Linked DNA regions of Homo sapiens: region 2 is linked to region 1. Evidence: fine-mapped expression QTL. A gene starts in region 1. The other region holds a variant in brackets. All regions are shown on one strand. Distances are between the middles of the regions. Region 1 holds the start of RBMS1 (RNA binding motif single stranded interacting protein 1). Region 2 holds the start of LINC02478 (long intergenic non-protein coding RNA 2478).

What was found. PIP is the estimated chance that this variant, and not a neighbour inherited with it, causes the effect.
Region 2: its variant is fine-mapped to the expression of RBMS1 in monocytes after LPS (Fairfax 2014, PIP 0.95). The same link has a PIP of 0.9 or more in B cells.

The regions. Positions count from the first base shown.
Region 1 is chr2:160,490,197-160,498,536 of GRCh38, reverse strand. It overlaps RBMS1 (RNA binding motif single stranded interacting protein 1), which reads left to right and starts at 4,730. Exons shown (of 14, transcript NM_016836.4): 1 at 4,730-5,248. The coding sequence starts at 5,174. RefSeq lists a silencer at 4,303-4,482 and an enhancer at 4,669-5,189.
Region 2 is chr2:160,268,792-160,277,131 of GRCh38, reverse strand. It overlaps RBMS1 (RNA binding motif single stranded interacting protein 1), which reads left to right. Exons shown (of 14, transcript NM_016836.4): 13 at 1,418-1,502; 14 at 2,368-4,981. The coding sequence ends at 1,495. It overlaps LINC02478 (long intergenic non-protein coding RNA 2478), which reads left to right and starts at 5,237. Exons shown (of 2, transcript NR_103775.1): 1 at 5,237-5,412. RefSeq lists an enhancer at 6,420-7,029. The variant G/AG (reference allele first, on the strand shown) is at 3,363.

The DNA.
Region 1 (8,340 bases):
TTTACTGTCTCTCTCACGAGACTGTAGGCTCCGTGAGGCAGGCATCAAGTCTGCTGTATCCCCAATGTCCTGCACATAGAAGATGCTTCTTCAATGCTGGCACAGACGTCAATGTATAACTTCTTTCGGGAAAAAGCACTTAATGGGTCATGCTTTCCTAGGTCATCTTGGCACAAAGTTTTATTAAGATTCCTTCATGAGCTCCTTCCCACAAAAGTGCTAAACATGTAGTACATATTTTTAGAAAATTTGTCATTATTTAAAATTTTTAAGGCAAGCTGACTTTTTTTTTTTTTTAAAGAGAAATGGCTGATAGCTGACTCAGATCTGGGTATGAACCGTATAAGAACCTGGGACAATCTTATCATGCTAAAAAGCCAAAAGAAAAAAAAAAAAACTGTCAAGACTATTAGAGTCTGTTTTTTTTTTTTTCACATGAGGCAATTTGAAGGGGCTCCTATTGCCCAAAAATGGGACAATTTGAGCACCAACAAGAATAATGACTGCAATGGGTTGAAGCAATTCAAATACAGTACATTAAAATCCACAAATCCAGAATCTTACTTAAAACTAGTTAGCTTTGGAGTTTCCTAGGGCACCAACTCATTCTCCTAAAAATTGATAAATAGGAGAAATTTATCCTACCTTTCCTTTGCTACCTGTATTTTAAGTTAACCAAAGAGTTGAAGACAGAAAGTTCTTCTCCGTAGACAATTTCTAACTAGTAAGTGCAGAAGAAATTATAAAAGGAGAAAAACCACAATTTGTAACTCCTAATTTAAAAAAAAATGGATTGAGGTAAAACTCATGAATGTAGAAAAACATCCTGTGAATGGTTGATGGGGAACTTTATAATGAACAAGTCAGACTGATAATGCCTGAACTTCTGATCAACTTAACATCCCTAAAAATGAGACAACCAGACATTATGGTTTTCTGATGGGATACACATCACATCACATTCCCTATGTGTGTTCAGTACCATCTAGGAACTATTCTTTGTCAAAAAAATGTGAATCTGCATCTAATCAAACCTCTAGAACTAACCATCATTGCAAATGACACCATGAGGTTGCAATCAGCCATGCGGGAAATTCTGCAGGACAAATGACCCAAATCCTTTAACAAGTAAATATCAAATTTAAAAATGAATGGGGACAAACTTTTTTATTAAGAGAGTCTTAAGAGACATATCAACCAAATTTAATATGTGGACATTGTTTTAACCTGATTTAAATAGACAAACTACAAAAAACGATTTTTAGACAACAGTGGAAAATGAACAAGAATTGGGTATTAGCTCACATTAACAAATTATTGTTAAATTTTTTGGGTGTGACAATGGTATTATGTTTTAAAAAGTTATTTGTTAGAGGAAGGTAGTAGAATAGTTACTGGTGAAATATGATGCTTGGGATTTGCTTTGAAATACTCTAGAAAAATAAAAGTAAGTGTGTGTGTGTGTTTGTGTGTGTGTGAGACAGAGAAAGAGAGAAGAGGGAAGAAAAAAGAATGACAAAATGTTGATGAATGTTGAAGCTGGATGTTAGGAACAGAGGGTTCCTCTGCTTTTGTATTTGTTTGAAAATGATCATGCTTAAAATTAAAAGCTGATTTTGTTTTAAAATGTTTTCACATGAAATACAGCAAAAATACAAAAGAACTTATGAACATTAAAACAAAAGTATTGAAATGTAGTCTCATGTTATCAATAACCCAGAGCAAAACATCCAACATTACTATTTCTAGAGGTCTCCTTCGGCCCCTCCTTAAATACTTCATCCTTCTTCTTCCTAAGAGATACTGTTTTGAATTTTATGTTATTTTACTTTTGATTTTCCTTATAAAAGTTTTTAAAAACTACTCTTGCACCTATTCTTACATAACATACTGTTTAGTTATTTTTTCTGTTTTTGAACTTCATACAAATGGAATCATGCTTTATGCATTCTGTTGACTTGCCTTTTTCATTCAACATCAGTTTTGAAATGATCCATGTTGATGCTTTTAACTGCAGCTTATTCATTTCTGTTTCTGCAACGACTCCAATGTGTGCATATACTAAAACCTTTTTAATCCACTCTACAGTTGGTAGACATTTGAGTTATTTTCTGCATATTATGAACATTCCTGTATATTTCTCCTGGTGCACATATAAAATAATTTATTTAAGGTACGTACCTGTTACTGTGTTGTAGGAAACATGCAAATGAAATTCAGGAATGCCAAATTGTTTTCTAAAGTGGTGGTTAGACCAATTTATACTTCCTCCAGGAAGCAGTGTTTTCAGATTTCCCCCCTTCCACATTTTTACCTACTCTTAATATTTTTAGAGTTCTTAATTTTTGCAAATCCGGTGAATATGAAATGGTATAGTAGTATTATTTTAATTTGCATTTCTCTTATTACTAATGAACTTGAGCATCTTTTTATATGTTTTCTGAATATTTGTGCTTCTGTGAAATACACATTCATTCTTTTGTTCATATTCTAACAAGTTCTCTTTTTTTATTGATTATTTATACATTCTGTATACTAACCTTTTGTGTTATATGTATTACAGGTATTTAGTGGCTTTTATCGCTTTTTATAAAATCCTTCAATGAACCAGTGTTCTTAATGTTAACAGTCAAATCTGTCAATCTTACACTGTTGTTCCCCTTATTTAACCAATCTTTCCTATTTCAGGGTCAAAAAGGTATTCTTCTATATTGTCTTCTAACAGCTTTATACTTTTGTTTTTCACATCCAGGTCATGATTCACCTCAATTTTCCACCCTCCTCCCTTGGTATGTGTGAGGCAGGGCTCCCATTTCATTTTTTCCATATGATTGCCAGTTGACCCAGAATCATTTATTGAAAAGTTCATTCTTTCTCCACTGCGCTATAATACCAACTCAGTCATAAATCAAGTGTCTATACAAGTGTAGGTCTGCTTTTGGGCTCTCTAAAACAGGCTGAATTTCCATCATCCAGAAAAAACAGTAAGTAGAACAGTCTAAGTTTGGTAGTTTCCCTTATTACCTCAAACCTAGAACTTCTGCGATTGTTCTCGATTTACTTCTCTTCCTTCTGTCACTCTTCCAAACCATCATTCCTAGTCTTCCTAAAGCACAATTTAGTTCATGTCAGTTCCCTGTTTAAAAACATTAAAAGGCCCCACATTGAAACAATATGGGAAATATTTTAGGCTCCCCTAGTCTGACAGTGACCCATTCCACTTTTCAGGTCTGCATGCACCTCAACAGTGCCTACAATATAGCAGACATAGTAAATATTAGCTTCCTTATAGGCTTTTACATAGGTAAATGAGAGGGACATGATTTGCCTCCTGGCAGAGCCAAAATGTTCTCACCTATACTTATATTTATTTTGTTTTTGTCAAACATGTAAGATCTAGAAATTTGTCTAAACCATAGAACGATTATAAGGGTTTCAGGTCCTTATTTTGTCATTGTTTTAAAGTATCTTACTAAACCTATTTTAAAATGTTATCATATAAAAATAATAACTGTTTAACAAAATAATGCATTCCAGTTGAGTTTAATTTACCTTGTGCTATTAACAAAAGACTCTTCAAAAACCAAAATGACAAAGTAAACAAGGTCTATTTAATAACAAACACAGTTTTTTATTACATTTTATTAGATGTGCCGGAACCCTAATTTGAGGATGCTTGCTTACCTATGCTATCCGTATGTACATTTTGGTATTAGCTCTCTTTTTGAGCTGGAATATAAAAGTCTTCTGCAGGCAGCTTCGGGGACCAATTAATTCCATTAAATTATATCTAGTTATGTAGTGAACTGAACCACTGCTGGTCTGAGGCTGTCTAGAGCTGTGACAATTAGGAGATGGAGAGAGGCAGAAAGAGAGATTGATTTTATATGTCACTGAAGCACACTGCAACAATATGCCAGCGTGACTTTCAAAATGGCCTTAAAATATTCCAAACTCAGGGAGTTTCCTTGCTCCTGAGTGGGAGTTGACAGACTGTCTGGCAGCATTAGAAAGAGGCAGAGAAAAGCTGATGTCTATATTGTGTCCTCTAATAACATTCTGCCTCTTTGCGGCATCCCCCTCTTAGAAGGATCCGTCTATATGTTGTGAGGGGTGTGTGTGTGTGTGTGTGTGTGTGTGTATGTATGTATGTGCTTTGCCTCCCCTTGTGCAAGGGGCATGATTTCACGTCTCACATCTGGGAAAACCAAACCGAAGGACGCTAACCCTCCCAAGGTCACCTAGATTAGTCTTGTGGCCCCGGGTCGGGGGTGGGTGGGAGGAACAGAACCCAGGTGTCCAGACTCCAGCTTTGTTGGGCATTAAATCATTTTCCTTCCCTTGTGAAAAAAAATTACTGGGCGGTGGGAAGTGAACGATTAATCAGATTTCCTCTTTTCCCTTATTTCCCCTCCCCCTTACGAAGATAAAAACTCGGGAAAGCAAAAGAGGTGCCCGCCCTGCAGTTCTTAAGCTGGGTCCCCCCGCATTCCCCCTCCACCCCCACTCCCACTCCCATTTCCCCACCCCCGACACAAAGCGATCTGGACTCACAGGGCTTCCGCCCGTCCAACCGCGAGCCTGGGAGGTGAGGAGTGGTTAAAACTCAGCCCTCACCTCCAGCGGGTCCCGGGCTCGGCGGCGCCCAGGCCCCGCCCCCGCCCGCCCTTCCCCCACGGCCTCGGAACGCCAGCCCCTCTCCTCTCTCCACATCGGGCGCACCCACCCCAGATGCCGCCTGGCACCAAGCGCAGCCGCCGCTGCCGCACTTTCCACTTGTATTGATCACCTCTCAGCCCCGCGCAGCCGGCTCGCCCGAGCGGACCGCGGCCAGCGCGCCAGCCCTTGGCAGCCCCGGAGCAGTCGGGCTCCGGGAGGAAACTCCTTGGGAGCGCCCTGTCCGGGGTGCCCTCTGCGCTCTGCAGTGTCTTTCTTTCTGCCTGGGAGGAGGAGGAGGAGGAGGAAGAGGAGGAGGAGGAGGAGGAGGAGGAGGAAGAGGAGGAGGAGGAGGAGGACGTCTGGTCCCGGCTGGGAGGTGGAGCAGCGGCAGCAGCAGCAGCCGCCGCCGCCGCCGCCGCTGCCGCCGCCGCCGGAAAGGGAGAGGCAGGAGAGCCCGAGACTTGGAAACCCCAAAGTGTCCGCGACCCTGCACGGCAGGCTCCCTTCCAGCTTCATGGGCAAAGTGTGGAAACAGCAGATGTACCCTCAGTACGCCACCTACTATTACCCCCAGTATCTGCAAGCCAAGGTAAAGGGGCGCCGGGGAGAGGTGACGGCCGGAGGAGGGGGCCCGGGGACGCGCGCAGGGTCAGGCCTGGGGAGGGGGGCGCGCGGCGAACCCCCGCCACCGCCGGGCGGAGTTGCTGGAAGGTTGCTAACTATAGCGCTGGCCTGGGCAGAGCCGGGCGGCGCGCGGGGCGGCGGCTTCCCTGGGAGCGGAGTGCGGGGATCGGGTTACAGAAAGCCGCGGGGGGAGAGACTAGACAGGAAAGAGCCACCAGCCCCTTCCTGGCCCGGCCAGCGGGGAGGGTCGTGGGGTCGAGCGGCGCCCCTCGCCGAGCCCTGGCTGGCCGGCGGCCGTCGCCTGGTGTGCGCGTCTGGATCCGCTGGTGGCCCGGCTTTTCGACCCCTTCTCCAAGGGCCTCGCCCTGTAAGCTGTAACTCTTCGCTCCCCTCGCCGTGGCGCGGAGCCTCCCGCCCCCCAGGGACGCCCCTCCACCTCCCGCGCACGCGATGACTGGGGCTGGAGGGGCGGCGGGGCCGGGATATTTTCCTCCCCGCCTCCGGCCCTGAGCGCCCGCCCCTCGCCTCTGATCTTTGTGCGGTGTGGCACTTCACCTGGTTACTGATTTCTACTTTTACGCTGGTGTTTTGGGTAGAAAAGTGGCCAAAGTTCACTCGCGTTCATTGATGTCCCTTCTAATCTCTAGAGGTTTTGCAAAGGAGGGACAATGGGCAGATTTCAGTGCAGAGAAAGAAGTGACTTCGTATTTGGTTAAAAAAGAAACAAAAACAAAACTAGCTTATATGTTTGCCACAGATCGATTTCCAATGTTGCTTTTTAAAAAGTGACCTCGGCACACTCTTGGGTAACAACAGTTGATGACATGTAGCCATACAAATTGCGCCTGGCTTTCTAGGGACCCTGGGTACTTTGTTAGTGGGCCTATCTTATTTTTACAATAAGAATTTGATGCCTCCCGAACTCATTTAAAAAAATTATTTGGGCCATGAAGACTGGAAATTTCACTGCTTTGGAAGCAGCCGCCAGAATTTGGGAGGGTGGAAGTTGGACGCAGCAGCCTTCTTCAGCCATTAACATCTATCACAACTCTGGGTGCCCTTCTAGATCACAAAAGAATCAGGTATGGATGCAGTGTCCGAACTTTCTTTGGGAGGTTGTAATCATGCTCTGCTTGCTGGTAGTTGGGCATTTCCGGCCTGGTACAAAGAATCTCTGATTCAGCCTTTTCTTTCTTAGAATGTGTGTGGTCCACGTTTTCATGTACTTACGACATAGCCCTGTATTTGTCTACGTAAAAAGGACACTTGTCAGTTTCGAGACCAGAAATGTCCTAGCAATCCCGGGCCTCATTTTCACTTCCCCCAATTCCCACTTTACTTTGGGTCACCAGAAAGCAGCAAGATGGTAGCAGCAAGGATACCCCTTATTCATCTCTGTGTAGTTCTCACAGTATTTGTTTTAGGAACTTGCAGGAGATGCTAGTTTTCTGTGAGCTACATGGTAGCTGTTCAAAGAAATTTTGTGGCATAATCAATGCACTACCTTTTAGATATCTTATATATTTAATGCACTTGTTTAAATTATGCAGCATTGGGTGCCTAAAGGACAGCTTATTCAACACTTAACAATATGAATAATAAATACACCCACTCAGGTGAGGAAGAAAAAAAGCCATGTTTCTACAGGCACATTTACCTTAGTAATTTTTATATACCATTAGTAAGTTAGAAACCAAGTCCATACCATTTAATGTAGCTAATGCAATGCCATTTGGCTTTTTTGCCCTGTAAATAATTGAAGAGAGAGACAAACGGCAAGAGCCTGCTCTAGTAATTAGGGTCGGATCCCAGAAAGCTTTACGGCCCATTTTCTGAAAGTGTGCTTCCTGCATAAAGCATTTAATATTGATTTGTGTTGCGGTAAATGACATTCTCAAAACATTTTGCTAATTCTACAATTAAATCTGAAATCCTATTATTCGGAATTCCTTTGTTTCTGGAGAAAGGTATACATACTCACTTGACCTATATAACATGGTATTAAAGTTTGGTAATTAAGTCTAAATTCCCTGTTGTACAAGTATCTTGATTATCTCAGAAGGGGACATCTTCTAAAAATGGCACGTGACTAGATGCAAATTTTAGGTAAGCAGAGTTCGGAACAGGCAGCCCTTTTTTTTTTCTCTCCCTTATGTATCTGTTGGTAGCATGGTAGTAATGTTGAATCATTTAAAAAAAAAAAGACTTTGATTTGTAGTTAGTTTAAAAACAAGTGTTGCCTAATCTACCTAAAGAGTTAATAAACTCTCTTAGGATCTGCTGTCTGTCATGATTCTTGCCTCTGTGTGTGCTTTAACCTTCCGAAAATATGGGATAGAAAACATCACTCTGTTTAAAGTACAGTGATGTGTTTGCTAGGCAGAGTCATTTTGAAACTTCTGTTTGGAAGCTATATCAAAAACTGAAGAATGGCATGGTCATCTAAAAAGTGATAGCTAATTTGTACTCAAGAGATAGATGTGATTTTCTCAAATCTAATTCTTTTAATCAGAAGGAACAGATAATACCAGGTAAAATGGAACTTAACAGTTTGTTTTGTTACCATACTTTTAAAAGTTATATATGCCAAACCATTCTTCTTGTTTTAGTGATCCAGTCTATTTTGGTAAACTTATTTTGTAATTTTCCCCATAAAAACATACTAGTTACTTCCACATTTTATTAATAAAAAAATACCATCCGTTGGGCTATATTGGAGCAAATGACCATATTGGTATGCTTTGTACTTTGACAGAAAGAAAAAAAATCATTAGAAAAAGTAATATGTCTCCATGAAATGTAAAATAAACTTGAGTGTACTATGGAAGAGCAGGACATGAGTGGAAATGAATGAGATTGTATAATATTCATAATACCTTGGTGTAGAGTTACATAAATTTCAAGTAACCTGATTTCACATGCTGTTGGTTTTTTGTTTTTTTTTTTTATTTCTCAGTGAGGATGGTCTTATCACAGCAGGTTCTTTTTATCAGCTGACACATTCATTCTGAAATGTAGCTTGATGTAGCTTTATAAACATAACCACATATTGTCCTA
Region 2 (8,340 bases), 220 kb after region 1:
GGAGGATTGCTTATGGTCAGGAGTTAGAGACCAGCCTGGGCAACATAGTGAGATCCCATCTCTACAAAAAATAAAATTGTTTGAAAATTGGCCAGACATGGTGACATGGACCTGTAGTCCCAGCTACTCAGGAGTATGAGGCAGGAAGAACCCTTGAGCCCTGGAGTTTGCAACTACAGTGAGCTATGATCATGACAAATTAGGGTAACAACATCCAGGCCACACCTCTTAAGACTCCCAGAAATATTTTCTAAGCCTATAGTGCCTTTCATACCCCTCGGACGTTCTGTCTTGTCTCTCATAAAATGATACTACAGACATAATAAGATAAATCTGGAGTTTGCAGTCCCAGTACTAAAGATCGTATCAATGATAATTAATAATGACGAAAAGAAATCAGTTGTAGTTAAGATACTTAGTGGAAAAGAGAAAGCTGTTTTGAAACTGCTACAGGGATGAAGAAGAAGCTATAGCTGTTTTTACAGAGGCTGTTAGTATGGCTAGATAACTGTTCTTGTTATGGAAGATACTGATATGAAAGAAAGAAGTCTAGCATTTGAATTATGGTTAGAGAGAAAACGTGGCATTTTCCTGCAAAGTATCCTTAAAATTTCAAGGAAATGTATCAATCCAGTTGATCTTGCCCACTAGGCAGATCCCAAAGGTTCCAATTCCAGGAAAGGATCATAGGACTCTGGCCTGTTGGTGGAGGTGGTGGTGGTGGTGGTGATAGTAGTAGCAGTAGTAGTAGTAGTAGGTGTTGGTGGTGGTGGTGGTGGTGGTGGTGGTGGTAGTAGTATTTTACTTCTGTTTGTGCAATTACTGACAACCACAGTTACCAGAGCCTACAATTCCTTACCTGCAATCTGAAACCCAAAAAGAAATCTGAAAATAAAAATTATCTTTGTAACTACTTTAGCATAAAACCTGACCTATGGCAAAACTCAACCTGAATTGAGATGAGACAAAATCTTGATCCCACTTAACTGTGCTGCTTCATGGCTTCCAGTGTAGAACTATTAATATGTTTGCTTATGAGGTGCAGCCCTAGACCCTACTGGAGGCATTAAATGATATACAGCATATGCATACCACATTTCAGATTATAAAATCTGAAAATACTGAATTCCAAATCACATCTGTCCCCAGGGGATAAGAGGGTAAGAGATTTGTTTGATATGCTGTAGCTTGATAAGAATAGGAAAGTCATAAACATTTGGATGGGAGGTGCTTTGGGTCTGTTAGACATGCCAGCTGCTTAGGGAAATGATTAACCTTGAAAGCTCTACATGACGTGAAGAAATTTACTTTAAAGAGTAACTGTTTTTAAGGCACTGTTGGATTCAGTCAGGCCTAAGTAGCAGAGCTGAGGTTTTTTCACTAACATGTCTCATCCATTCTGCTTTGTTTGTTGTAGGAGGCAAGTGGTCAACAGCAGGTGGCTGTCGAGACGTCTAATGACCATTCTCCATATACCTTTCAACCTAATAAGTAACTGTGAGGTATGAGGGAAAGGTCTTCATAACTGGGGGGCTCAAATCAAGCACAATCTATAGGGCTTTTTTTAAAATCAGAATGGTGATTGGGATAACTCGGATTTTATCATACTGCTTTAATCGTGGCCAAGGCATCTAGTCTTGTTGAAATATTAAAATCAGTGATTTTATGAATTTAAGATTAATCATTTTGTCTAAAGAGAATGCTTTATACTGAAGCCAAATGTATACTCTCCCCACTAAAAAGAAAAAAATAAAAATCTGTAACATCAGAGAACACCAAGAACCAAAATTGTTCTATAATACAAGTATCCTATATCATATTACTTTAATACTCAGAAACTGGAGGACCTATAGCATAAGATGTTGCTCAATCTAGCATTACAAGTTTAGCAACATCTTGATTATGAATTTAGATAAATGTCAATATCCTTAGATTGAAAGATTATATTCCCAACTCTCACTTGAACCACAAATTTCAAAACTTTTCACTTTACCATGCAGACTGTAATAAAATAGCTGTGTAGAACTTAGAATACCCTGGTTTCTGCATTGCCCTGGTGATATAGAATACCTTGGTTTCTGGATTGCCCTGGTGATAACATGTATTTTTGATTTCATAAAGTCACTCTTTAGAGACCCAAATGAATTTGGCTCTAAATTAGAAAAGAAAGTATTTTGCAAGTCCTGGATGTGACAGGCATTGAAAGTAACCATCAGTTCCAGAGTCTGCATTTATCAGTCTACCATCAGTGATGAGCATAACCTTTTTCAAACACATATCTCTTTAAAACAAGAAACAGATTACAAAGCTCTGTAGTGTTTCACACCAAATCTACAAAAGCATTTGTCTTTTATTTTTCTCTTCCAGATGTACAGAAAGGTGTTCTTACATGAAGAAGGGTGTGAAGGCTGAACAATCATGGATTTTTCTGATCAATTGTGCTTTAGGAAATTATTGACAGTTTTGCACAGGTTCTTGAAAACGTTATTTATAATGAAATCAACTAAAACTATTTTTGCTATAAGTTCTATAAGGTGCATAAAACCCTTAAATTCATCTAGTAGCTGTTCCCCCGAACAGGTTTATTTTAGTAAAAAAAAAAAAACAAAAAACAAAAACAAAAGATTTTTATCAAATGTTATGATGCAAAAAAAGAAAAAGAAAAAAAAAAAGAAAAGAAAACTTCAATTTTCTGGGTATGCACAAAGACCATGAAGACTTATCCAAGTGCATGACCGGATTTTTGTGGTTTTGTTCATTTTGTGTTTAATTTGTGTTTTTTTTTTCCAGCTGTATGAAATGGGCTTTCTGAAGTTTAAATAGTCCGACTTCACCCATGGTGTTCTGTGCTTGCAGTGCGAGTGTTGCTGTAATTCAGTGTTGCCGTCAGTGTCTCTTTTCTTAGCTTTCTGTCTTTCTTTCAACGTAGTGTGAAGTGTCTTATCCTTTTCTATGAATTCCAATTTGCCTTAACTCTTTTGATGCTGTAGCTGTTTCAGTAAAAGTTAGTTCAAACTAATGATGTAGAATGCTTTGACCAAATGAGCTGGTCTATTATGCCTTGTAAAACAGCAGCATAGGGCTTTTAAAAGGTAGTCAATAAAAGTTGCTGAAATTTTGGCTTTTTTAAATATGTAGTAGGTGTTTTTAATGATTTTTCACATAATGTGTAAGGTAGTGAAATGCAAGAAGGGAAAAATGTTTTGTGTGAAACACATTTTCTGACTGGGGAACTTTTATTAGGGTAAATTGTTTGTAAGGCTGTACGCCAACAGTTTCCTCTGATAGTTTGACTGATTTAGGATATCTGCTGTATGATGCAATGTAAAGTCTTTTTTGCCTTTTTTCAGGAAAAAAAAAAA[G/AG]CTAACTTGATGTACTAGATTTAGTGTAGGTAGTGTTGGGGTTGGGGATGGGGGTGGGGGAGGGGAGTCACTGAATGTTTTGTCCTTCCTTTATACTAATGATAGTGCTTTAGAATGAGAATTATGCCTGAAATCTGGCAAACCGAAAAATGTTGCTATTGCAACAAAGTGGCAAAAGCTAAAAGTAAGGATTTATCTTCAAACATAAGCTGAGATAACGAATAGAAGCAAAACGATTGGCTACTAGCTCTCTCTCTCTCTCTCTATTAGGTAAATTTGAAAAATAAAAATGACTTGGCACTTTTAAAGGTAACTTCACCAAAGACCGAAGAGCCAGTAACCAGTAGCTCCAACTTGTCTCAGCATCACATCTTCTGTGCTCTTTATTTTTGCCGGACCAGTTTGCGGTTAGGAGAATGTGCCTTTTTTGTACCTTTGCATTTAGGTTTTATAATTTTAATTGATGTATGGACACACACAAACAAAAAAGCATGAAGGAAGATTTGGATCCAAGCAGTGCCACACTTTACATCATCACTACAAGTGTTCAAGTGTAAAGAAAACCAATTTTGAAACTATGAAATTCCTGATTCATAAATACACAGTTATTTCTACTTTAGTACATATAAGATAATTCACTGTTATTAAAGCTCTTTTATTAAGGCAATTGCATATGTTTTAAAAGCAATGGTAAATTAAGTTGTCTTCCAAAACTGTGTACTTGTCTGGTCAGCTGTGTATGATCAGTTATCTACCTCAGAGTCTATTTTCTTTTGTGCTGGGACAGGTTGCTGGCCCTCCCTGTTTCCACAGACCAAATCCTCCTAGCTCAGGAGCTAGGGCTAAGCAGTTATTTCTTTCAAGTATTTTTTAGTTCTTAAATTTTATGCTTGTATTTGATGATAGATGTCAGTGACATTTCATAGTTTCAAAAGTCCTTGCTGCTCTGAGAAGTGTAGATTCTAGTGAAAATTACATAGTCATAAGAGAAATGTGTTTTTGTTTTTGTTTTTGTTTCATTTTTTTAAAGTTGTGGTATTATTGGTTCTATGCTCCCTGGAATATTACTGCTTTGTGAAAGTCCAGACTGAACGCAGCACCCTCTGTGTACCTAGTACAGTTATAAACCTGGGTCTCTCACTACTTGATATTTTTGCATTAGTTAAGACAGAAATTTGATAGCTCGGTTAGAGGGGAGGGGAAATCTGCTGCTAGAAATGTCTGAACTAAGTGCCATACTCGTCTGGGTAAGATTTGGGAAACATAACCTCTGTACATAAAAAAAAAAAAATCAGTTAAACATCACATAGTAGACAGCCATTAAATTATAAAAAAATTAATTTATGAAGAAAGACCTTTTGTACAGATTGAAAAAAAAAGATTTTCATAGAGATATCTATATGATCAAGAGAGTTAATTTTTTATTTTTGTTTTACTAGTGCCACAGACTTGCCAGTGGTAACTTATTTGTCCGGTTCAAGATAACTCTGTAGTTTTCTTTCCTAGGACTTGTTGTTAAACGCCAAAAGACATTTTTGAACTGTACATTTGATCAGATTGTTAGCTTTTCTGTTTTATTTCTTTTGAGAACCTTTGAATAAAAAACATCTGAAATTTTATTTTTCCTGTCAATTTTTTTTAAGTCGATTAAGTGTATATCAGAATTTCATTTCATTTCTGATCTCTTTCTTCAGCTCAGTAGATTGGTTTGAAAGTGAGTTGAAAGTTATGTCAGATTCAATATATCCTCAAAATACATTTCCTTGAAAACAATTGGAAAAACCTTTCCACCCCACTTTTGCTGGTTATTTAAATCTGTGTAATGACCAGAGACGTCAACCCTCAGCTCAGCACGTCAACCGTCAGCTCAGCACGTCAACGGTCGGCTCAGCAAATATCCAGCCCAAAATACACCACTAGTGGTCTGTTCTTAAAGACCAAAAAACCAGGCCCTTTTTCTTCCTCCTTTCTTGCTGCTACGCCTCAACTATTTCATTGCTTGTCAATGCTCAGCAAGGAAGACAGCCTAACAGCAGCCCTCCCACCTGTGGTAAGGAAGCATGTGGGCGAGAACCTCGGGATAATCTTATCTATGCGTTTATGACCAAGGTCCTCTTTCAGAGCTACCTGTTCAGCTGTTCCCGACTGGAGGCTCCCGTGCAGCATTCACGGAGGAGCGAGAACTCCTCTTTCCCTCACTTGACTGCTTTATAGGAGGCACTTAATATGCAAAATAGGCTCCTTCTGCCCAAAGTGGAGTAAACGTTTTAGTGTGGTGGTTCAGTATTTATTTCCTGGTGTCCAGTGGCTCTGTCATGGTGATAAAAAGAGTGGGCAAGGAAAAGATGCAGTCCGCTCCATTTCTGGCTGCGTCCCCTGCCATGTGGATGGTGTGCGGGGTGAGTTAGATAAGGGAGGGGTCAGAGCACTTAACTTGCCGGAGCCAAGAAATCGCTGGTACTTGATGGCTGTTTCAGAGAAGGAAACAACATTCCTCTGATGCTAACTGGTGCTTCTGAGAGCAAAATGTCAGGGAGGAGAGAAGCATGGCCTCTCGAGACAAACCCAGGCTGCTAAGAATGTAAGCTCTGGTCTCACTTTGCGTTCCAGCCAAACACCTAAGTGCTCCTTTCTATGACCAAAGGTAAGAAAGAAATGCAATTCAGGCTCCTGGGCACCTTCGTTTTTGTTCACCCTATTTTTGTTGTAGCTTCTCGCCGCTGAAGTCCGCGGCCCTCTATCTGGCTGTGTTATGTACTGAAACCGGTAAACATACTCAGGAGCACCAATCCACGGAAAAGGGAGGATCAAGCCAGCGATGGTGGTTCACAGTTACCGCTCCCATATAACTAGAGGGGTTGTGGCATGTTTGGGGATAAACCCCACCTAGCTGAAAGCTCTGAGACTGAAGTGGAATTCTGGGGTTGGAGGAGAGGAAAGAGGGTGTGGCCGTTGCTCTGTGGTCTACGTATTTTCCCCTCTATAGTGGCTGGAATGAGGAAAGCCAGGGAGTGGAGGCGGGAGTCCCGTTTTTCACCCCACTGCCACACCCTTCATGGCCAGTGGCTCTAGGTTTATCCGCTGGAGCTTAAATCCCACAAATACTGATTTAAAATTCACTAGGAGAAAGGCAGTGCCTCCCAGCCTGAGCCGGGGCTCAATGAATGTTAAGATATGACTGATTATATCCTCATTCCATTAGGGTAGCCAAAAAGGAAAAGAGCCAGCGCCATTGGGACAAAGGTCACCGACCTCTCAATCGCCCTGCCCCTTCCACAAAAAGCCTGAGATGTCAAGTAGGTGGGGGAGGGAGGAGAGCCGGGAGCTCAGGATTTGAGGAAGGCCAGGCAGTCTCTGCCCCTCGAATAGCAACGCGATGAGCTCAGCCCCCTCAGTCCAGGCCGAGAGCCAGATGGGGGTCACGTGGCCGCGGGGCCCCCCGGGCGCAGGGTCCTCGGCACAGCTGACGGGTGCGCGCCGAGCTCCGCCGGGCGAAGGAATTCCAGCCCCGCAAAATGGCTCCAGAGTGTCTCCCGTGACTCGCTCGGTGGCTGCGGAAGGCAAGAGGGTGTGTGCGCTTGAGCCGCTAGAGGGAGGGTGTTTTGTTCCTCAGCCGTCAGACGCGAGCTCTGCAGGCCGAAAACCCAGACCCGCTGCAGCCGACATCGGGAAGCCCCTGGGCGGAGGTTTAGCCTGTCGGGGCACACAGGCCTGGGTCACAGGGGTCTTGAATTTGGGGTTCCTCGTAAGACTGGAGCGCAGGCCGTCGCCTGTGCTGGCAGCGCCCTCATTGTGAGCGTTGTTGGTCAGACTGGGGAGTGACTGAAATGTGACTTTGAAGGTTCAGGGCAGCTGGGGGCGGCTAGGGAGGAAACCGCGCGCCTTGCCAGACCACGTGACTCGGCGCGAGAAAGCGATGGCAGGTCTCTGGGCTGCTCAGAATTGAAAACGTGGCTTTGAATTAAAGAATTCGGTTGTTTTATGCGACTCTGAGAGACTTAAGATTTGATGTAGGCTATTCCAGTGCTCACACAGGACCCAGACCATAAACCAGACTGCAGGGATTTCCTATCCTCTAGTATCCTTGAAGCCACCTGCCCTACTTGAACACCTCCAGGGACCAGGCACTGCCTGCCTCACAGGGCATCAGGTAGCTTTAGGGAACAGCTCTCAAACTTGTTTGCAGAGGAGTCCAAATTGTGGCTTTGAAATTCCCACTTACCGGCCTTAGTGCTGCCAACCGGGATGCCACAGAGTCAGTCAGTCATACTTCAAGTGTGGAAACGTGACTCCATGGCTCTGCTCTTCTCTGGGTTGAGCATTCCTTCCAGCTTTAACTCTTCCTCGTCAGCCCTGGTCACTCCACATCATCAACTCACCTTCCAGATGTACCACAGTTGACTCAGGATAAAACCCAAAACCGGAGGAAGAACTTGGGACTTCACCTGTCTCCCCTGCCCTGCCGGTTCCTTTTTGACTTCTCAGACATACCACAATTCTTAGAACTTGTAGCCAGTGAAAATCCCTATGTTGCTTTATTTTTTAAATGACAGTAGTTACGCTAAAGACATGCAAGATAATATGAAGTCATTTTAAAATGAGGACATTTTAATGACATGGAAAATGCTTAGGATATAACGTGAATAAAAAGTGTTAGGAACAGACCTGTAGATACAGTATGATCAAAACTATGAAATAAGTATAAAACCCAAGGAGAGGCTGGGCACAGTGGCTTATGCCTGTAATCTCAACACTGGGAACCAAGGCCAGGGGATTGATTGAGGCCACGAGTTTGAGACCAGCCTGGGCAATATAGCAAGAGTCATCTCTACAAGAAAATTTTAAAAATTAGCCTGGCATGATGGCACACACTTGTAGTCCTAGCCACTTGGGAGGCTCAGACAGGATTGCTTGAGCCCAGGAGTTTGAGGTTGCAGTGGCTGTTATGTTCACGCCACTACACTGTAGCCTGTGTGAC